Homo sapiens: one gene and its partners. The protein of the gene in region 3 interacts with the protein of the main gene of each other region in a pairwise test. Each region holds a gene or a part of one and is shown on either strand. Other genes may lie near its edges.

Region 1 (7,779 bases), on a different chromosome or scaffold from region 3:
TCTTAAAATGTCTCTAAAATTAATTTAAAAAAACTACAGAATCTATAAAATTATACTCTCCATAATCTCTTTTTTTAATGTTATTATTATTATACTTTAAGTTTTAGGGTACATGTGCACAATGTGCAGGTTTGCTACATATGTATACATGTGCCATGTTGGTGTCCTGCACCCATTAACTCGTCATTTAGCATTAGGTATATCTCTATAATCTTTTACAAACTTGTCCATTACATAAACTGAGGGGAGAATGTAATGATTTCCACTATCTGAAGACAGTGTCAGTACCCCCATCAAAACTATTCTCCCTTTACCTTTTCCACTTTTTTTTTTGCAAAGAGTTTCAATTTTTATGTATTTTTTTGCCTTCTAAAACTCAGTACACACATGACATCACTTTAGATCAATAGCATTAACAGAATTGGGACGTAGCTGTAAGAAAATTCAGAATCAAAATAAGTGAAGCACATGGGTGTGGTATCTCTCAAACTGTCCTTACCCAGACTATCTATAACAAGCAAATAAAGCGGAGTGTAAGAGACAGCCTTGCAAAAAAGTGAAAAAAATAAGGACTGTAGAAAATATGCTAAGCCACTAAAAAGGGAGAAATGATGGGGCGGAAAAGCCACAAACCTTCTTGAGGAAGGATCCCTGTGAGAGAAGCAGTAATAAAACAAGGAGACCATTCATGAGGATAATAAAGCCAGAGTATTGGGAGATGAAAGTTTTAGGTTGTAGAGAATGGAGGTTCACAAACGCCTCCAAACATGCCATGTACATTGTGTTTTTTTCTAACCCTTTTGCTTTAATGTTAGCTCTTACCAGAGTGAATAAGCTAAAATATAAGGAAGCTATTTACAAAAAGCAGAATTCCTGAATCAAATTAATTCAACTCAACTTATATACACTGAGTATCTAACTTTCAATTTCATTAAAGACTCTATATTGGAGACATGGAAACGCAAATCCAAATATATCATTACATAATAACAACAACAAAAAAATCCCAGCAACCCACCCCTAGTAAACAGAACTAAATGACTCAGATTAAAATCGATTCTCTGGTTTTCTTTTTTTTTTAATTATAAATTTTAAAATATGGCCAGGGCGCAGTGGCTCACACTTGTAATCCCAGCACTTTGGGAGGCCGAGGTGGGCAGATCATGAGGTCAAGAGATTGAGACCATCCTGGATAACACGGTGAAACCCTGTCTCTACTAAAAATACAAAAAATTAGCTGGGCATGGTGGCATGCACCTGTAGTCCCTGCTACTCAGGAGGCTAAGGGAGGAGAATTGCTTGAACCTGGGAGGCAGACGTTGCAGTGAGCCAAGATTGCACCACTGCACTCTAGCCTGGGCGACAGAGCGAGACTCCGTCTCAAAAAAAAAAAAAAAAAAAAAAATCTTAAATATAAATAAAAAGCATGTGTGTTTTTTTGTTTTTGTTTTTTGAGACAGGGTCTCACTCTGTTGCCCAGGCTGGAGTGCAGTGGCATGATCTCAGCTCACTGCAGCCTCAACCTCCCAGACTTAAGCAATCCTCCAGCCTAAGCCTCCTGAGTAGCCGGCACTAACAGGCATGTGCCACCACGCCCAGCTAATTTTTGTATTTTTAGTAGAGATGAGGTTTCGCCATGTTGGCCAGGCTGGTCTTGAACTCCTGGACTCAAGGATCCGCCCGTCTCAGCCTCCCAGAGTACTGGGATTACAAGCATGAGCCACCACGTGCAGCCTCTGGTTTATTTTCAAGTTAAATCAGGTCTCTAGATTATTCACCCTCTTCTGCTATATGTCAGGCAGTTTGGGTACAGTGGTGAAAAAAAGATTTTTAAACTATCTACACATCAAATGAAATAACTTTTTTAAATGTCACAAATATTGTTACAATATTATTTTAATGTTCTGTATAGACATCTTTAATGATACCCACTTTTCCACAGTTTAAACAAATGAATTTTACTCTGTTGAGTATAACTCCTATCAAAATCCTTCTATTTCCCCATAGGAGAAAGATAATAAATGATATGCATCGGTATTTTAAAAATTAAAATATTTCAGTATTCATGCTGTACATCCACACATTTAAATAATTTTTCATGACTTCAGTAATACTACTGTTGGTTAGCAACTAGTGTGCAGGCATAGCTAAGAGGGCTACTTACTGGCTATCTTTTCATTTGCCTCAAACATTCGCAAGGCTGGTTCTATTTGTGACTATTTCTGCCTGAAAAGCAGATTGATGGATTTCCTCACACTTTCTGCCTCACAAGTGCCCTGTGTTTTGCTCACAATGTATCAGCTCTTCTTAGTTTTTCAGTGTATTTTCAGACCTGTGGAACTGTACTGCAGGAAGGAAGGCCTTGCAGCTGGTAGGTTTTTCATTGCGGGTCCTGCTCAAGAGCCAGATGTGACATTGTAGCAGGTTCTAGCCTATGGCCACAGAGGTGGGAGGTTATTGAACCACCACTATGCTGTACACTTGATTTTTTATTTTATTTTTTGAGACAGAGTCTCACTCTGTCACCCAGGCTGAAGTGAAGTGGTGTGATCACGGCTTACTGCAACCTCGACCTCCTGGACTCAAGCAATCCTCCCACCTCATCCTCCCGAGTAGCTGGTAGCTGGGTGTACACTTTAATCAGGCATGCACAACCTACTATCTTTTAAACAAATTAGTTTTATCTGTGTCATATCTCAAAATTTGGTTTTCTCAAGTAAAAAATATCAGAATGAACTGTTATCTATTATAGGGAAGGAGCGGGGAGGGGAGTGGCCGAGATCCTAGTTTCCATCAATTCATAGGGTAATAGTATTTACAGCTAAAGAGGATGAATAAGAAATTTTGTACTTTTTGGGGCCAAGAACAGTGGGTCACGCCTGTAATCCCAGCACTTTGTGAGCCTGGGGCAGAAGGACTGCTTGAGGCCAGAAGTTTGAGACCAGCCTGGGCAACACAGCAAGACCCCATCTCCACAAAAAACATTTTTTTTTTTATTTAGCCAGGCACGGTCATGCACACCTGTAGTCCCAGCTACTCAGGGGGCTGAGGCAGGAGGACCACTTGAGCCCAGGGTATTGGGGCTGCAGTGAGGTATGATCATACTACTGCATTCCAGCCTGGGTGGAAGAGCAAGAGCCTGTCTCGAAAAAAAAAAAAAAAAACATATATTTTTCCTTACAAATCAAGATTTACTTAAGCCTGATGATCTATTTGACTAAGTAAACTGATTTCTGACCAGTTATTAGATTCTGAGAGTTAGAGGCAGGAAAGATGAATAGACAAGAATGGTCCATAGACGCAAGGGAGCAGGACGTTGCAAATGAAGGTCAACTCTGTAAAATACTAGAGAGAGAGCATTAACTCAGCCCTGAAAGGCTCCCACTGGATTTGATGACTGCTGGGGGTCAAAAGTGCAGGGCAGAAGTCGTAATTAGTGACCTCAGAGAAAGCCATTTCAGTAAAGGGATACAGGGAAAAGTCAGACTGCACTGCACTGAGGAGTAAAAATGAAGCAGGCTAAGAGAAGGAAAATGCAAACAGCTTCTAAGAAGCTGGCTGTGAGGGGAAGAAGAGAAATACGGCAGTAGCTAGACTAGGATGAAAAGCAGAGAAAGATCTGGCTTATTTGTTTTCAAGAAACCAGAAATGTAAGCAAGTATAGAAGGGACAGGGTCTCGGCCCAGAAAAAAAGCTACAGAACTGTATCTAGGACTGCCTACTCTTTATTTCTATTGAACTGTCACGAAAGAATTTCAAAGTCCAAAAGTTCAAAATTGAATTCATTGCCTTTCTTTGGAAACTTGCTATTCTTTCTGTACTCCTCATTTTTCTAACAGGATCTGGCTATGGAGGACCCATAGGAAGAACCTGAGTCTTCTTAGACTCCTCTGTTACCTGTCCCATCCTATGCTTTAGCCATAACTACTGTTTCTTTAATGTATCACTCCATTTCTCATCCACGAAGTAAACACCTATCTTCCAAGATTCTACTCAAAAAAAAAAAAGGAGGAAGGAATAAAGAAAAAAAAAGTAAGAGAGACTCAGCATATTCTTTTTTATGAAGGCTTTCCTGAATATGCCTCTTCACCTTAACAAATTTAAGCATCTCTTTCTTTACAATTCTAATGGTTCCTATATGGTCCTGCAGACAACTTATTTTTCCAAGCAAGTACAAAAGCAAACAACTGCCATCTATTACCTACCATCTACAAAAGAACATGTTATATCAAAATAATTTATACCAAAATACCATAGTTTCAGATTAAATGACAATCATTCTGGCCGCGCGCAGTGGCTCACACCTGTAATCCCAGCACTTTGGGAGGCTGAGGTGGGTGGATCATCTGAGGTCAGGAGTTTGAGACCAGCCTGGTCAACATGGTGAAACACTGTCTCTACTAAAAAAACAAAAATTAGCCAGGTGTGGTGGTGCATGCCTGTAATCTCAGTGACTTGGGAGGCTGAGGCAGGAGAATCGCTTGAACCCGGGAGGTGGAGGCTGTAGTGAGCCGAGATTGTGCCATTGCACTCCAGCCTGGATGACAGAGTAAGAATCTGTCTCAAAAAAAATAAAAAGGCAATTGTTCCTCAAAAGGTTAGCAACCTTACGTTAACTGTATTTAGACATAACACATCATTTCTCACTTTACTACAGACCAATAAAAATGGCATAGTGTCCTAAGAGACTTCACTATTAACACCTGTAATACTTCATTCTACTCCTTTGTATACACATCTACCTCTGTTTACTAGGTGATAAATTCTTCAGGAGTAAAGTTTGTAACTTCTTAATCTTTGTATCTGTCATATACAGTACAGCACCTGGAACAACATAGTTGCCCAACAAATGTTTGTTAAAAGTCTAATGAAGGGAAAGAAATAGAGAAAGAAAATAAAAGGGCTAAAAAAAGAGGGCAAACAATGAGAGAAAATCTTTGGAAAACAGCCACCAACTTGTAATTGAAGCTGAAGATGGATTAGTGATCTCTAAGCCAAAAGGATTCTTGACTTGTCTCATTTGCTTTTTGAAAACTCTTGTGCTGAACTGGGTCTCTTCTGAATTTCTCAGAATTACTGGAACATCCCAACCAAACCTAAAAAAAGGTAAAAAATAAAATATTATTTTAACAAATGTTGAAACTTTATGTTATGTGTAAAATCTGTTGTGCTTCATTAGCGATTCCTTTTAGCATTAAGTGTCAGAAAGAGGTTAAATTTCTCAATTTACGTTATTTTAGAGATCCCACAGAACTGCAAAACAGTTGGCCCTCTGTATGAACCAAGTGCACATCAAAAATATTTGGGGACGAGGGGGAAGAATAAAAAATAACAATAAAAAATACTACAAATTCAAAACCAATACAGTATAACAACTGTTTACACAGCATTTACATTAGGTGTAAGTAATCTAGAGATAATTTGAAGTGTACAGAAGGACGTGTGTAGGTTATATGCAAATACTATGTAATGTTATATAAGGGACTTAAGCATCCTAGAATATGGGGGGTGGGTATCCTAGAATCAATCCCCCTCAGATATCAAGGAAGGACTAGGTATTGTTCAGCTGGCTGAATCAACACATTCTTGAAAACAAAGAGTTCTATTGTTAATACTGTTGATAACACCAAAGGAGTATGGAGATTATAGATAAATTATACTTAATTTAACAGCAAACACATGATGAACTTATTGAATTTTTTTAAATGTGAAAAAGAAATATATATTCAAGAGGCAGACTATTGGCCGGGTGTGGTGGCTCATGCCTGTAATCCCAGCACTTTGGGAGGCCAAGGTGGGAGGATCACTTGAGGTCAGGAGTTCGAGACCAGCCTGGCCAAAACATAGTGAAACCCTGTCATTAATAAAAATACAAAAATTAGCTGGGCATGGTGGCGTGGACCTGTAGACCCAGCTACTTGGGAAGCTGAGGCAGGAGACTGGCTTGAACCCGGAAGGCAGAGGTTGCAGTGAGCCGAGATCGTGCCACTGGACTCCAGCCTGGGCAACAGAGCAAGATTTCGTCTCTCAAAAGAAAAAAGAGGCAGACTAATATGATTTATGGGACAACGGAACTTTTTTTTTTTTTGAGATGGAGTTTCATTCTTGTTGCCCAGGCTGGAGTGCAATGGCGTGATCTTGGCTCACTATAACCTCTGCCTCCCGGGTTAAAGCAATTCTCCTGCCTCAGCCTCCCAAGTAGCTGAGATTACAGGCATGTGCCACCATGCCCAGGTAATTTTTGTATTTTTAGTAGAGACGGGGTTTCACCATATTGACCAGGCTGGTCTCGAACTCCTGACCTTAGGTGATCCGCCCACCTCAGCCTCCCAAAGTGCTGGGATTACAGGCGTGAGCCACCATACCCAGCCAGGACAATGGAACTTTTAAAACACCAACTATAGCTCTTCATTTATATATCTTCTACTTTTAAATTTCATGTAAAAATGTAAACTCTGACAATGCCCATGGAACAGAATTAAAAGGAAAATGAAAGGGGCTAAATTCAATTCCCAATAAAATTAAAAAACAGCTACTTTACTCAATTTACATAAAATAATCTAAAATTAATACACACCAGTTAAACTAGGAAATTTTAGTTAAAGACGGCACAGTTAGGAGCCTATTTGATGCACTCCCTTCTCTCCAAATACATATCAGTGATAGATAAAAAAGAAAAAGAAAAATTAAAAAGACCCCACAGATACCTGAGTCCCATATGCTTTAAGAAAAAAGAAAGACTCCGCTGAAATGAGTAAACAAACTGTGGTATATTTAAAGAAAAGAATAGAAGTATTCAGCAGTGAAAAGGAACAACTTATTACTACAATCAAATGGATAAATTTCAGAAACATCGTGCTATGCAAAAGAAGCCTTACACAAAAGAATAAATGCTGTATCCTTCTCTAATATAAAATTCTAGAGCAGGCACAACAAATTTATGGTAGAAATAAAAATGAGAACAATGGTTGCTTCCGGAAGTACAGGAGTAGGACTGACTGGGAAAGAGCATAAGAAAATTGACGGTAACGTTCAGTATCTTGACAGAGGCTTAAGCTGTATAGATGATGTGTTTGATAACACTTGGTAAATGGTACACTTAAGATTTGTACATCTTGGCCGGGTGCGGTGGCTCACACCTGTAATCCCAGCACTTTGGGAGGCCGAGGCGGATGGATCATGAGGCCAGGAGATCGAGACCGTCCTGATTAACACAGTGAAATCCCGTCTCTACTAAAAATACACACACACACACATACACACACACACACAAATTAGCCAGGCGTGGTGGTGGGCGCCTGCAGTCCCAGCTACTCGGGAGGCTGAAGCAGGAGAATGGCGTGAACCTGGGAGTCTGAGCTTGCAGTGAGCCAAGATCGCGCCATTGCACTCCAGCCTGAGCGACAGAGCAAGACTCCATCTCAAAAAAAATAAATAAATAAAAAATAAGATTTGTGTATCTTATATGTAAATGTTACTTCAAAAAACTATAAACGAAAACAAACACTGAACTCTAATCAGTAATATGTAATGTTTTAGAACTTACAGGTGAAGAGTACAACTCACTTTGAAGGGCATCGTGAAATAAGATAGACCAATGTATGGATAAAAGAGTGGATTAATGTGGACAGATATGTAATAGAGAAATTACAGTAAAATGCTGATTGTAGAATCTAAGTGATGGGCAGATGTGTGTTCACTGTGTAATTCTTTCTAGTATTCTGTATGTTTGAAAATTTTTATAATAAAATGCTGGGAACAAATACCTTTATGGATCCA
Region 2 (7,779 bases), on a different chromosome or scaffold from region 3:
GTGTGGGATGTGACTCTGCAGCCTGAACCATGTCTTCTTCCCCAGCCTGCCGGCTGGCTGCCTCCCACCATTGCCTGTTCACAGTCACACCTGGATGTGAGAAGGGAAACAGTGTGGACTGAGCAGTCCTGCCTTGGGTGGTCCCTCCCTCCCACCCCTTGAGGATCTTGGTCTTTAGAAGAGGCGCCCGTGGAGAGGGATGTTGTCTAAATCAAAGCAACAGAGAGGACGAGCTGAGGGACCCATAGAATCCAAGAGGCAGTGCTGGGGGAGGCTGAGGGAGGAGAGAAGACTGCACTTTGTATGCTGCATTGGTTTATAAAACCCTCAAATTTGGTAGAGATATTGCAGTTCCTGCCTTGTGAGTGGAACAACACCCTAAGTCCAAGTAGCAGAGGGCAGAGGTCAGAGGTCACCTCGTATTTGCTTTTAGCTGTTCACTTGCAAAATTTCCATTTTAAGTCTACATTGCCTGGGGCAGGCAAACACAACCTTTGATCCTACTTCTGCTTTCTGATCCCAGGACTTATTTGAGTCTCTTGTTTATCAACTGTCTTCAATCCCAAACCCCATGGGGCTTCCCAGGAGCCACCTAGAGGCCACACTGTTTTCCAGGACCTTGGCTGCTGTCTTGTCCTGGGGCTGCGCAGATAGGAAGGTTGACTTATAACCTGTCATTGCCAGTGCTGGGCCCTGGAGGGTGCTGGGTCCCTGTCACATTGTCCCTGTGTCTGTGTCTGTGCAGAGGTGCTTGTCAAGTGCATGTGCGGAACCAGCTGTCCTTTTACAGCAGAGTGTACTCTGAAAACAGCTTTATCAGGCAGCCTTCTGAAGAGTTTTGACCTGGGGCAGCTATATTGCAGCCGCAGCTTGCATACAGATGAGTTTCTAGGAAAAGGGAAGCAGGATCTGCCTGGCTGCTTTCCATCAGCACAGCACGCTTGTGACGGGCTCCCATGCTGCCTTTCTCCCGAGAGATTAAATGGAAATGTGGTAACTTTCAATTTTTGGCTCAATTTTTCTCCCATTCTCCCCATTCACTTTTTTATGATATTGGAAGAGGTTAGGTTTGCAGAAAAATAGTTCAGAAAGTGGGTTTTCTAATGCACAAAAACCAAAATCTTGTGATCTTTCTATTCTGGTTTGTTTTTTTTTTTTTAAAGAAATGCAAAAAGTTCTGGGAACACAGCTGTTTACCCATGTTAAAACCAGTATGTTTCTGTCTTTTTCCCCTTTCTGTTTCTGTCTCCCTTTTTAACGTGTAGCTGCAGATAGCAAGGATGAAGAAGTCAAGGTTGCCCCCAGGCGGTCCTTCCTGGGTATGTACCCTGCGCGTGCACTGTCCGCAGCACGTTCCTTTTGCTTCATTCCTGCAGCTGTACTTCCTCCTGTTGTTGCTTCCATCTGTGCATGTGCGTGCGTCATCTTTACCAAGCGTGGCCGAGTCTACAGCAAACTAATCAACTCCTAGCTCTGCTGTTTTCAAGCATGAAGTAGTTACTAGAAGCCTGTCCATGCTCTTCTGTGTGTGGGGAGATGGGGGCGGGAAGGGGAAGCAGGAGGGAGACAGGAAGGGAGGAGAAAAATTTAGATGACAAATTTTGGACTTTGTTAAATTTATTCCAAAGTATTTTATCCTTTTTGATGCTATTGTAAATGGAATTGTTTTCTTAATTTCAGTTCTGCTGCTTCATTGCTACTTTATAGAAATGTAATTGATCATTGCATGTTGATCTTGTATCATGCAATTCTGCTGAACTGGTTTGTTCTAAGAGTTGTTTAGTAGATTCTCTATATATGATTCTGTCATTTGCAAATATAGTTTTAATTCTTCCTTACCAATGTAGTTGCTTTTATTTCTTTTTATTGCTTATCCTGGTTATAGGCGGTGAGAGTGGATGCACCTATCTTATTCTTCATTTTAGTGAGAAAGCATTCCATCTTTCATCACTAAGTAGATGTTAGTTAATGGATTTTCCATAGTTGCCCTTCATTAGGTTAAGGCAGTTCCCTTTTATTCGAGTTTGTTGGGTGTTTTTATAATAAAAGAGTTTGCCAAATGCTTTTCGTGTCTGTTGAGATGATCATGTGGGTTTTATTTTTTATTCTACTATGATGATGTACTACATTGATTGATTTTTGTGTGTTGAACCAACCTTGCATTCTTGGGATAAATCCATGTGGTCATGGTGTCTAACACTTTTTATCTGTTGCTGGATTTTATTTGCTAGTATTGTATTGGGGATTTTTTGTATCTGTATTCGTAAGACATGATGGTCTGTAGTTTTCTTGTGATGACTTTGTCTAGATTTAGTATTAGGATAATACTGGCCTTATAGAATAAGTTGGGAAATGTTCCCCTCCTTTTCTATCTTTTTAGAGTTTGCAAAGGGTTGACACTAATTTCTCTTTAAATATTTTTAGAGTTATCCAGTGAAGCCATCTGGGCTTGGGCTTTTCTTTGTGGGAAGTTTTAAAATTACGAATTCAATCTCTTGTTATAAGTCTATTCAGATTTTTTGTTTCTTTGTAAGTCAGTTTTGGTAGTTTGTATTGGAATTTTTCCATTTCACCCAAGTTATCTAATTTGTTGACATATAATTTTTCTTAGTATTCCCTTATAATCCTTTGTATTTCTGGAAAGTCATTAGTAATGGTTCCTCTTTTATTCCTGACTTTAGTAATTTGATCCCCTCCTTTCCTTTCTTTTTTTGGTCAGTCTAGCTAAAAATTTGTCAATTTTTTGTTCTGGTCAAATAACCAACTTTTTAAAAGGTGTTTCTTTTTCTTTTCTTTCTTTCTTTCTTTCTTTTTTTAACACAACACATCCACATTGCCTATCAGAGAACCAATTTTTGGTTTTGTTCATTTTCTTTATTGTTTTTCTATTCTGTGTTTTATTTCACTCCAATATTCTTTCATTCCTTATGCTTGCTTTGGTTTTAATTTACTCTTTTTCTTAAGGTGGAGGTTAGAACATTGATTTTTTTTCTTTCTTCCTTTTTAATGTAGTTATTGACAGCCATAATTTCTCTCTAAGCAGGTGCTTTACCTGCATCCTATACTTTGGTGTGTTGTGTTTTTGTTTTCATGCACCTAAAAGTATTTTAAAATTTACTCCAAGATTTCTTCTTTGACCCACTTATTAGGAATGTGTTAACTTCCACATATTTGTGAATATCCCAAAATGTCTTCTGTTATCGATTTCAAATTTATTTCCATTATAATTGTAGAATATACTCTGTATTATTCCAGTACTTTTATTTATTTATTTTTAATATTTGGAGACAGAATCTTGCTCTGTTGGCTGTGGTGTGATCTTGGCTCACTGCAACCTCTGCCTCCTGAGTTCAAGCAATTCCTGTGCCTCAGCCTCCCAAGTAGCTGGGACTATAGGTGTGTGCCACCGTCCCTGGCCAATTTTTTTTGTATTTTTTGTAGAGACAGGGTTTTCACCATGTTTACCAGGCTGGTCTCAAACTCCAGAGCTCAGGGCACCCACCCACCACAGCCTCCCAAAGAGCTAGGATTATAGGCATGAGCAACCACGCCCAGCCAGATTCCAGTACTTTTAAATAGAGGCACATCTTATGGCCTAGCATATGATCTGTCCTGGAGAATATTCAATGTGCATTTTGCTGTGGTTGGGTGAAGGTGGAGGGTTGTCTGTTAGGTCAAGTCTATGATTTATTGTTCTTCTGTGTAGTTGTTACGTCCATTACTAAATGTGGGTGTGGAAGTCTGTAACTATTTTTGAATTATCTTTTTCTCTTTTCACTTCTGTCAGTTTTTGTTTGATGTATTTTGGGGCACTGTTGTTTGTTAGGGACGTATATGCATATTTTCTCTTTTGACATCTGTGTCTTCTGACGTTAGTGTCATCACATGCATGTCTCCTGTGGTTGCCATTTGATATATTCTTTCCATTGTTTTACTTTTAACTTTTTTATGTCTTTGAATTTAAAATGAGTCTTCTGTATACATACGATGGATCTTTAAAAAAAATCCATTCTGGCAATTCTGCCCTTTGATTTGATTGTTTATTTCATTCACACTTAATGTTATAATATGTTCAGATTTACATCTGCTACTTTACTTTCTGGTTTCTGTATATCCTATGCCTTTTCCCCTTAGCTGTTGCTCCTTTACAGCTTTCTTTTGTATTAAGTAAATATTTTCTAATGTAACATTTTAATTTCTTTAAATAATGTTTTCTGAATTATTTTCTTAGTAGTTACTTGAAGGCTTACAATATTCATCTTAACTTATCAGAATCTACTTCAAATTTATACTAACTTAATTCCAGTGACAGGAACCTTACTCCTACATGGTTCGATTTCCTCCTCCCTTTTTAAATGGTATGATTATTATACATATTTTGTCTACATATATTACAACCTAACAATATATTTTTCTGATTGTTCCTTTATATACATTTTATGTCATTCAAGAACTTGAGAAAAGAAAGGAGAACAAACATATATTATGGAGTTATTATATTAACCTTATTTACCATTTGTGGTTCCTTTCATTTCTTTCTGAGACTGAGTTACCATCTACAGTCATTTTCTTTCTCTAATACAGTTTTGATCCCATCTCATTTGTGCTATTAATATTATTGTCAAATATATTACATTTCTTTATGTTAAAGGCCCCCAAACAATACAATGCATATTGTTTCATGCAGTTACTTTTTAAGTCAACTAAGAGAGGAAAGGAGAAGACATGTGACCGATATCATCTTTTATAATAACTTACATCATTGTCTTTACCTGTACTCTTTTTTTATGTGGATTTGAATTGCGTCTGATGTTTCTTGTTTTCAGCATGAAAAATTTGTTTTCTGTAAGGTCTGCCTACTAGCAACAGATTTTCTCAGTTCTTGTTTATCTGGGAATCTTTGTTTTCCCCTTATTTTTTAAAAAAAGTTTTACTAGATGTAAGAATCTTGGTTGATGATTTTTTTTTCTTTTCAGTGCTTTGAATATGTTATTCCACTGCCCTCTGGACTCCATTGTTTCTGATGAGAAGTCAGCTGTTAATCTTATTGGGGTTTCCTTGTAAGTGATAAATTATTTTTCTCTTGCTACTTTCAAGATTTTGTCTTTGTTTTTTGACATTCATCATTTAGACTGTGATGTGTCAGGGTGTGGATCTCTTTATCAGGTTTGCAATTTGTTGAGCTTCTTGGGTATGTGGATTAATATTTTCATCATATTTGGGAAGTTTTCAAAAGTCATTATCTCCTTGAATTTTTTTTTCTGCTCCCCTCTCTCCTCTCCACAATCTCACCCATTCTGCATGTGCCGGTGCCCTTTCCTGTCATCCCACCTTTCTCTGAGACTGTGTTCTTTTTTCTTAATTCTGTTTTCTGTTTGTTCTTTAGGTTGCATAGTCTTTATTGATATTTCTTTGAATTCACTGATTCTTCTGCCAGCTCAGTCTGTTGTTGAGCCCTTATAGTGAGTTTTAAAATTTTAGTTGTGCTTTGCAATGCCAGAATTTCCACTTGGTTCTTTTTTTTTAGAATTTCTGTCTCTTTATTGATAACCTCTATGTGATCAGTTGTTGTCATCATATTTTCTTTTAATTCTTTATGCATGGATCCCTTTAGTTATTTGAACATATTTATAATAGCTATTTTAAAGTCTTCTTCTACTGAGTCCAACACCTGTGCCTCTTCAAAAGCAGTTTGTGTCCTGCTTATTATTTTTTTCCTGTGTGAACCACACTTTTCTGTTTCTTTGTATAACTCATTTTGTTTTCTTGTTGCAAGCTGGACATTTTAGGTAAACTATAGTAGCAGCTGTGGATACAGATTCCCCCACTTGGGGGAAGGATGACTTACTGTTTGCTTGTTTGTTTTGTGATTTGGCTGGACTAGTGCAGTCTCTGGGCCTCTTCTCCCTCAGATGTGGTGGTTCTGGCTGGCTGTGACCCTCCCTGATCTTCCCGTTAAGCTTCTGGTGGTCAAACCAGCTGTTGGCCTCCACTCATTGATGGCTGCTGGCTGATTTGATGATGCCCTGGGGGATGTATTCCCCACAGCTGGGCAGGGTGGCCATTGGGGCCAGTGTTTGGTGGTGGTTCTGTTCCCAGGAGTGCTCCTCTTGGTTGTCCTTTCTGGTTCTGTTTGATAAACTTTGAGCTCATCATGGAGCTTCTAGCTCCTCTTAGTTGCTGGCTGCCGAGGTCTCTGTTGTTTTTGTTAGCATCCTTACACTTGAACTTGTACCTGCTCTAAGCAGGGAGTCCCTCTAGGGAGAGCTACGGAGCTCTCTATCCTGATACCGCCATCCCCAGGACAGAACCTCTGGTCCTCTGAGGGTGACAGCTCTGCTCTGAGTGCTGCATGGGAAGTGAGTTGTTGCCTCTGGTCTTCTTAGTTTGCCCCTGCTTGTGTGGAACCTCTCCCAGTGAGCAAGCTGAGGCAGGGACAAGGGATGCTCAGTGTCCTCTGCCCCTGCGCCATGGGTGGGGGCTGAGTGGAGGAAGGGAGCCTGGGCAGACAGGAGCTGAGCAGGCGATGAAGAGCTCGGGTGCCCGCCACTGCTGCAGTGGCACTGGGGGAGAGGGAGCCTGTCTTCTCGGTTGCCTGCTGGGAGTAGAGCTTTTGTCACATGGGGATGGGGAAGCAGGTTGTGGCCCAAGTGTCACGAAGTTGCTGTTCCTGCTGCCACTTAGGTGGTTTTCTTGGATAAGCGTTTCTCCATTCGCCGTGTGTCCCTAAGACACGTTAGGGACTTTAAGTGGGTGCTGTTTGTAATGTTCACCACTGGCAGTGATGTTGCTGGAGAGGGTCTGTGGAGAGCCTCACACTGCTGTTCTGGAAGAGCCTACTGCCTCTGTTGTTTCTGACCTGGCTGAAACCCTGATGGCTGGAAGCATGAAGAAGGTTTCAGGCTGGCAGAGCAACGCTCTTGAGTTTCTGTTCAATGGCTACATTGAGTAAACGCAGCAGCCAAGCATTCTCCATGGGGTGTGTCATGGAGGAACTCCTGGAACTGTCCTGAAGTCCTCTTTAGAAGTAGGTAGCCCAAAACTTTCATTTTAAAGTGACTTGGGGAAAACTGTTTATTCCAGTGCCATCTGGGCTGGGGCCTTTCTGGGCTGTTTCTGCTGTGTATGATGCTGTGTTTGTGTCCTGATTTCGGGCAGAAGCCGTTCAGGCTGGAGGGCCATGGCTCCCTTGGCCGCGGTGACAGCCCAGCCCCTCACCTCTCTCACCTGTCCACCGTTGGGTGCCCCACTGAGCAGACTCTGAGCAAATGAGGGGCCCGGAGATGTCAGTTAGGGTAAAGGGGGGAAAAGGCTCCTGAAGATGAGAGGAGGCTGAGAGCAGGCAAGGCCATTCTCCCAGGGCCTCCCTGGCTCTAGCTGAGGCGGCTGCAGGAATGTGTCTCAGCAGCTGTTAGGGCAGTGCGGCGGTGAGCGCTTGTCTGTCTGGGCAGCCTTGGGTTGGGACGCGGACACCTGTCTCGGCAGTTGCTTGATTTGTCCTTGCCGAGTGGGAGGGTGTTTGTTTCCCGGGGTCCTCTTTGGAAGCCGGCACGGCTGGCCCTCCCACTCTGGCCCTAGACGTGCTCAGTCCCCACTCAGCCTGTCCCACTCACTGGGGTTGGGGCGGGGGCTCTGTCACTCCCCGAGGGTCTCTGATGTGGGTCTCTCTGCGTCGTCCTCTGGCCCCAGCTGTGTCGTCTGCCTGTCCCTGTTGCCGCCTGCTGCACAGGTGGCAGGATTAGAGGGGTCAGCGAGGCCAGTGCCGGCCTCGAAGGCTAA
Region 3 (7,779 bases):
AAATGAGTAAAGCACTTGACTAGACATTTTTCTAAAAGAGACATACAAATGTAACTTGTGATTTTTTTAATACAGTGTATTTTAGATACATGTATTTTATGTGTAATTGAAATTCCACTCTTCCTCTCATCTGATAGTTACGTACTGAGTGCTAGTGTCAGGCCGTTTACTGTAGTTGCTGTGGTCATGGATGTAGAGTTGGTGGTGGTCCTGTCCCAGAAGGAATTACTCTGAATAGGATAGAGGGTGGTAGGTCATAACCAAATCCCCAGTCCTAGCCTAAGACCTAGTAAGGTCAACAGGAAGTTGTTCCTAGTTGCAGGATTGTCCCTGAATGCTGCTTCGGATGGCATCTTCCACGTGGAGCTAAGAACAGAATGAAGCCACAGGCTTATTCAGAGACCACAAGCTTCACAACTTCTGTTTAACACATCTAATTATGATTGTAACAATACTGTCTGGTTTTGATGCTGTTACGTTTGAAGGTAGATCCCAGCCACTGATCAGAGCATTCAGATGGATCATCTTCCCCCAAAGCCCAGGGCTTCTTTCTGTCTCCACAGCACCCCCAGCTCAGGGGTAAAGTGCCCTAACCCTAGGACTGGTGAGAACCACCTTCCCAGTTCAGTTTTCTCCCTGTCTGCAGGTCCATCTATCTTCTCGCTCAGGATGTGGGTATCTCTTAGAGGGTGAAGGGAAGTGATTTGTCAAATGGTTACCAAGGGCATGGAGAAAGTTAATTTACCTCTTAAAATGACTTTTATATTCCTTTTACATTGGTGAAATTCATTCTCCTGTTTTTTTATGTGTGTGATGTTGAGAGATTCTCAGTTTTGATTGAATAAGATCATAATCTCATTTTTATTTTAAAATTGAACACTTTTATAAAGCTTAAATGAAACAAGACCAGTTAAATTTTTGAGATGGAACTTTTGTGGAAAATGCTGAATGTTGGAGGATGACGCAATGAGTTCTCCGGACTGCCAGCCTCCCTTCCCTAGATATTTGAAATTATATTAGGGCAATTAGATTATAACTCAAACTTCTGAAAACCATTTAGAGATAGATAAGAAATTCATTTCACTGTATTGTACTCTAAATTGTAAATGAGATTCAAGATTAATTGTTTAATAGGTTGAAGTTTTAAATTGAAACTTCCTTCTATGTTATTTTATATCATATATGCTTCACCATGAAGGTTGATTTGAAACCAGAGTTTCAGAAATACCAATATTATTATATTCTTTTCATCTAAATTGAAGTTATTATTATTTTTTTAACTGGTCCTGGCCACTTCTTTGTATCTCTCAAACTGCCACTTTCTTTGTCATTTTTACAACTATTAATAGGTGGCCGATTGTACTGAGCCTGAGCATAGAATAAAATAAGTACAGTGGTCCCCCTTATCTGTGATTTTGCCTTCTGCATTTTTAGTTAGCCCCAGTCAACCTTGATCCAAAAACATTAAATGGAAAATTCCAGAAATAAGCCATTTATAAGTTTTAAATTTCACACTGCTCTGCATAGCATGGTGAAATCTCACCCCGTCTCACCCAGGACGTGAATCATCTCTTTGCCCCGTGTGTCCATGCTGTCTCTGCTACCCACCCGTGAGTCACTTAGTAGCTGTTATGATTATGAGATGAGAAAAGCATAGTATATATAAGGTTCAGTACTATCTGTGGTTTCAGCCATCCAGTTGGGGGTCTGCAGATAATGGGGGGTGACTATAGAATTTCTTAGCTTGGCTGGGGAGCTAAAAGCATAGTTCCTACTATTCTTGCCAGAAAATGGGAAAAAATGTTCAATCCCATAATTTTATTATATGAAGTAGTGACACGGACAGGAGGCAGAAACAGTGGGTAGAAGAGGGCGGTTCCCAGCAAAGGCCCCACCCTCAAGCCTGGAAACCCACAGCCCTAAATGGGAACAGGCATTCCTGTTTTTGCATCCAAAAGCTGCCTATTGGCCCACCACACCCCCCTCTCCTGTATCCATATAAACCTGAGACCCCAGGCTCCAGAAGGAGACAAGGAGATGAACAGAAGAGCAGAAGAATAGCAGAACGGCGCAACAGAGAGAAGGAGCATCTGAATGCTAAGAGGGAGTTTACCTGGACATGATCGGAGAGGAGATATGTCACTGGACAGCCAAACTCCAGGGGAAGACCATCTTCCCACTCCATCCTTCTTCCACCTCCCCATCCATCCCACTGGGAGCCACCTCCATCACCCAATAAAAGCCCCACATTCATCCTTCAAGTCCACGTGTGATCTGATTTTTCCTGGATGCCAGAGAAGAAACAGGGAAACAGAAAACTTTCACACTGGCCCTCTGCCTTTGTGGAAAGGCAGAGGGTTCACTGAGCTGTCTAACCCTTAAGCTGCCTGTGGACCGCAAGGTTAAAAGAGCGCACTGTAACACACACCCACTTGGGTTTCAGGAGTCGCAGATACACACCCCTGGACGTTGCCGTGAGGCTGAAGCCTAGGGGCACTCATCCCAGCTCCTGCACCTGCCCATCTGTGTGCTCCCCTTCCCGTAAGGGGTTTAAGCATGCACGGTCACCAAACAGACAAGTTACACCACTGTGGCACATCCTGCAAGCGGGGGGGGAGGGGGGTCAGGGAACTCCTGTTTCAGTAGATATATCTGATGAAAATAATGCTCTCCTGAGGGGATGATCGTGTATGTGGTGTGTGTGCGTGTCTGTGTGTGTGTGCACGCGCATGCATGTGCCATGACTTTTAGCACGTGTGCATGTATGTGAGGGCTTGTCTGGGCAATAGTGTCATTTAGTCAGCTAATGGGAACAAGCATCAATGCTGTTCTCTTTACAAGGCTCCTGTTTGTCTCTTTCTTTCAAGTGTTCCTCATTGCATGTTCTTTTCCTGAGAGCCAGCGAGTCTTTTCATAGCTTGGAGACAAAGAAAATTACTCAGAACCATCTTGCTTGTGGTGTTTCAGGGAATCTCCCCTAGGCTGCTGCCATAGTAGGCGAAATGTATTGGTTTTGACTCTGAGTCTCGTGTAGGTTACCAAATGGCGGATTCTTAGCTCTGTGATTGCCGTGGCTCAGCAAGCACCCTGAGCTGAACATCTAGTGGTTTTAACTTACCTCCTGTTGGTCTTGGTGAAACGGTCCTGGCACACTTGAGCCATTTACTCAACATATCCTTGAGTGCCTCTCATGTGCCTGGCCCTGTCCTGGGTGTTTGGAATACATATGTAAAAGCCACATAAAGGCTATGTTCTTGGAGTCTCCATCAGGCTCTTTCATAACTTTCAGTTTCCCACCTTCTGGAATGAGAGGTCACTATTCCAGGCTGTGGGAATGCGTTCATTTGCTTGGCTTTTTTTTTTTTTTAAGCTTCTAATTTTGTATAATGTATGAATGAGACACCATTGCTGCCCTCAGGGAGTTTGTGTGTGACAGAGAGAGACGGACAGGCAGGCAGACGTGTAAGTACTGTGCCACCAGCAGACTGGCTTCGTGCCAGAATAAGGTAGGAGCCTCAGCTCTGAGGGGAGGCAGGAGAAGGAAAGAACGGCTCTTCAACTGGGGTGGCATTTTTTGACAGAGGTGCTGTTTGGCTTAGCCTATGGTCAGAGAGTGCTTGGGGGATGTGACAGTGGGGCATGTGGGAATGGAGGTAGTAGACGATGAGGTCTCCACCCTCTGACTTTGCAGAGATGGGCAAGGCCAAGTGTTGGAAGGGCTTAAACACACACCGGAGTATTCTGTGAGAACCAGTGGATTTCAGAGGATGGCAATGACACCACTTGCCTTCTGCCTCAGGAGGATAACTGATGGCCGTGTGTGGGATGCACTGGAGAGCAAGAGCTGGCTTGCAGGGAGACCAGCTGGATGATTTTCTTTCATTTATTTTATTCATTCAACACACATTCATCTGGGGTTCACTCTGTGCCCAACACTGGGCATTTCCAAATAGTCCAGATGGCAGTAAGCATGGTTGTGGCAGTAGGAATGGGAAGGCTGGGAGGGGTATGAGAGGCATTACAAACGGGAAGTGGGAGTGGCACCCCAGAAAAGTCTAGTTTAAGGTGCTAGTGGATGTGTGCATGTGTGCGCGGGGGTGTCTAGAGGGTGGCGGGCAGCTGGAAATTGAGGTCAAGTGCTTAAAGAACAACTCGTTGTGTAGGACCCCCCCCTTTGTGGTAACAGCAGAGGTTTTTGAGAATCGCCAGTAATTTCTTAAACTCAGGCTGGTTGGGAGGTCATTCAGCCAGGGAACTCCACAAAGAGTGTTGCCACTTGGGTCAAAGTAGACCTCTGAAAATAAATCTTACAAGTAATTGCTGGTTTTAGATGCCAGTTTAAGAAGAGTTAAACCACTGTCATGCCCTAACGCAAACACTTTCATGCCCTAACTCATCTTTCAAGTTTGAAATTTAAATGTATGTTTCTTTGTTCTGAGTGACTGAAACATACACATGAAGACAACTTTGGTGGATGCAGGTGGGCATCTCAGTTCCTTTTGCTGAGTTTCACTTGCTCTCTGCTTCACTCATCCATGGTGTAGAAAACTGCAGCAGTCTGCCCTGCCATAACACAGATAGACATCATCCCTCACAATGGCTGGATAATTCCAGATTTAATGCCAAACAGAGAAAACTGATTTTATTTATGTTTTGTGATAAGAGGTACAGAAAAAAAACGGAAAGCGATGTAATGACTTGTCTTGACCAAATGCTTCCACTGCTCTGGAGGAGACAACCCACTTCCCCTGGTTAAGGAGGGGTGTTGCGTTTTAAACATGTGGTGGTTGTTATTCATTGTACTTTTTTTTAAGGTAGGAGATGTTGTTCTTTGGACTGAGTTAAATGCTGCTTAGCATAAAAGACTTGATGTGGAACAAAGCCTGCAGACTGTGACTATTTGACATGCACTGGGCTAATGAGAAGACAGAATGTCTCTAATCAGCAGCAGAACAAACACTCACAAAGGGTCTCCTTCCCTCCTAGGACTTCCTTCGCTGGGCATCTGGCTGGGATTCTTGTTGGACTAATGTACACTCAAGGGCCTCTGAAGAAAATCATGGAAGCATGTGCAGGTACAGAATAAAACACCTTTGGCATGACAACAGCTTGGAAGTTCATGTTAATTTTAATGTGAACAGAAGCAACCCCAAGTTTCCCTGTGGTTCAGCTCAAGAATTCCCTAATATGCCTGTTTTTCTTTTTAAACCGAAAGGTAAAACAACCAGTGCAGTTCCTTACATTGCTCCACAAAAGAGGCTGCAAACTTAAATTTCGAATCTGATACTTTCTTAGGGGACAAATATCAGTATATATTTATACCCTCAACCTTAATGCTACCCGCAGAAAACCACGATTTCCTAAAGAATGCAGAGAACTAAAGTGCCTTTAAAATAATGCATTCTTCTATAATAGTCCATGAATTAATATACGTGCAAGGCAAAGGTGAAAAAGAAAACAAAGCCTGGACTGAAGTGCATGGCCAGTATTTTAAAGAATTCAGACTGATGACCGGGTCCTTGGTGGATGAGCCATATATTCATGCATGGCGAAACCAAGTCTGTTATTGCTTGAAGCTTAGCTCCTGCTTTTTTTAATTTTGTTTTTCCCTTCAAATTGATACTCAATGAAAATATTTCATTTAGAAATACTTGTATTTTTTAGACCTCTTAATTTTCAATGCGATTCTCATTTTGACTTGTAAGAAAACTGGTTTGCAAACACTTGTTTTATAGACTGAGTTCCACTATTTCATCTTTTATTCATGGGAAGTCTTCTGAGACTATTTTACCTTTTCTTGAACCATAAATAATTTGTTTCACAGTTTGTGCTGATGACTGGTATTCTTGAGAACCATATAATATTCATGATAGTAGAAAGCTTTCCAGGCACTGCACTGGCACCTTTATTAGCAGGTCGTGTTCACTTTTGGTTGATTTTTACAGGCTGTGTTGCATTTAAGCAGATCCTCATTTTCCCACGTTTGCTTATTAATGTGTTTCCACTGTACGTACTTAGAGGAGGCAGTGGGAGCTTCATTTATTGAAAATGTCCAGTTTTATTGTATTTTCAATACAATTTAATACTCATTAGTACTGATAAAAGAGATGATTCTCGGGAGTTTAATGTCTTGTTTCTTTTTTCTGTGTCTCATGATGAAGCGGTTAGTAAAGCTTTTTGCAGACATGTTATGAAATTTAAGCAAGTGCTTTGTTTAATTTTTAAAGAGGATTTTCCCCTAATTATAATATTTAAACTCTTAGTTTTAAAAGCCTTAAAAAATAAGTGGTGACTTATTTCTACACCACTCCATTTTCAAAGTAATAAATACAATAGCAAATTAAATAGGAAAATTAGAACACTCAGTGCAATTTGCAAATAGCCTGCGAACTCGGCCTTTTTTCTGTGAGCTGAGAATTGAAGGACACAGGAACCCCATGGAAAACGACCCAGCATGTGGAAGCTGCTGTCTGATGCCTCCTGGAAGAGGAGGGTCACCCTGAGGGTGTGGCCCTTGGCCCTCCCTCTCTCATTTCATTCAGCCGTGCCAAATTGACTGAGTAGACAGTCCTACTGCCTTCTGTAGGGACAAGAAAGAGTGAAGTCCCCTAGGAAGGGTAGGGAGGATGGCTCTCCTAACACCTTCTTTGAGGAAGGTTCTCCATTTAGCCAGAGTGTCTCTGCTTGTACAGAGACATCAAAGCCGAGGCTTGGTACTTTGGCAGGCAAAGACTAAGGAACTTCAGTGAGTGTAAATTAGGGTTTCATTTTCCACTACACACACACACACACACACACACACACACACACACACATTCTTTTCCCTGTAGGGACACACACACACTCTTTTCCAGTTAGGGCTGGCCCCCAAACAAAAGGGAGTTTATTTTAATAAGTGTTTAGAAATCATTTGAAATGACCTTGGGCTTTGTCCAGAGAACTTTCTAATTACTGGAACAATTAGCATTTAAAGCTTTATGGCTGCCATTAAAATGTTTATTTCTTTTACGTTTAGGCGGTTTTTCCTCCAGTGTTGGTTACCCAGGACGGCAATACTACTTTAATAGTTCAGGTAGGCACTGTATTTCATTTAATAAATTTTAACTTATTTTTAAAATTATAGTGTTCAGCTCTACAGAGTACTTTAGGATACTACTAGTTTCTGCTGTGGTAGGGTCATTCACATGTTGTGTAACTGTGCCTCTAACACACCTGGAAGCTAGATGGAGGGTAGCCTAGGGAGCATATTTGTGGGGGTTGGTAGGGAAGGCCAGGGAAGGAGGTAACTCAGGCATGAAAACATGGTATGATTGGTATGAGGTCTCTCATGTGTGATAAGATTCATATTAGACCTTGGTTCTTTAAGTCTCAGTCTGAGACTCTACTGCTGGGAAAGTGTTAAAAGTTGGTTTTAGGTGTATAGTTCTCCATGGCCCATCCTGTGTATATTCAGGAACCCTTGCATACCGTCAGATGCTAAAATAGGCATGCCTCTAACAAATGCCATGTGACTTAATGAGGAAGAATGTATTTTTCTAAGTATCTGTGTAAATAGATAGAAAAGACTTCCTGTTAAAAGCGTAAGACCTATTTTAGGCTAAAGCCTTTGCATTCCAGTCTGGGGTGGCTACACGGTAGTATTTTAGATCAGGCCCAGCAGCCAGGTGTTAGCCATGGCCATTGGAACACTCATGTCTTAATGCAGTGAACTGAATGTGCCCGTCCCCAAATTCATACGTTGAAACCCTAACCCCTAATGTGATGATTTTAGTAGGGTAG

The links.
Region 1: the proteins of RHBDD1 (region 3) and CGRRF1 interact in binary tests that used the Homo sapiens proteins (3 or more experiments, as listed by UniProt).
Region 2: the proteins of RHBDD1 (region 3) and SLC66A2 interact in binary tests that used the Homo sapiens proteins (3 or more experiments, as listed by UniProt).

Annotation. Positions count from the first base shown.
Region 1 is NC_000014.9:54,519,771-54,527,549, reverse strand, and holds part of CGRRF1 (cell growth regulator with RING finger domain protein 1), read right to left. Parts: intron 5,097-7,779; coding exon 4,957-5,096; intron 1-4,956. UniProt on the Homo sapiens protein: Able to inhibit growth in several cell lines.
Region 2 is NC_000018.10:79,927,509-79,935,287, reverse strand, and holds part of SLC66A2 (solute carrier family 66 member 2), read left to right. Parts: intron 1-1,265; coding exon 1,266-1,319; intron 1,320-4,976; coding exon of another isoform or gene 4,977-4,984; exon of another isoform or gene 4,985-5,023; coding exon of another isoform or gene 5,024-5,060; intron 5,061-7,779.
Region 3 is NC_000002.12:226,901,807-226,909,585, forward strand, and holds part of RHBDD1 (rhomboid-related protein 4), read left to right. Parts: intron 1-4,986; coding exon 4,987-5,075; intron 5,076-7,015; coding exon 7,016-7,072; intron 7,073-7,779. UniProt on the Homo sapiens protein: Intramembrane-cleaving serine protease that cleaves single transmembrane or multi-pass membrane proteins in the hydrophobic plane of the membrane, luminal loops and juxtamembrane regions.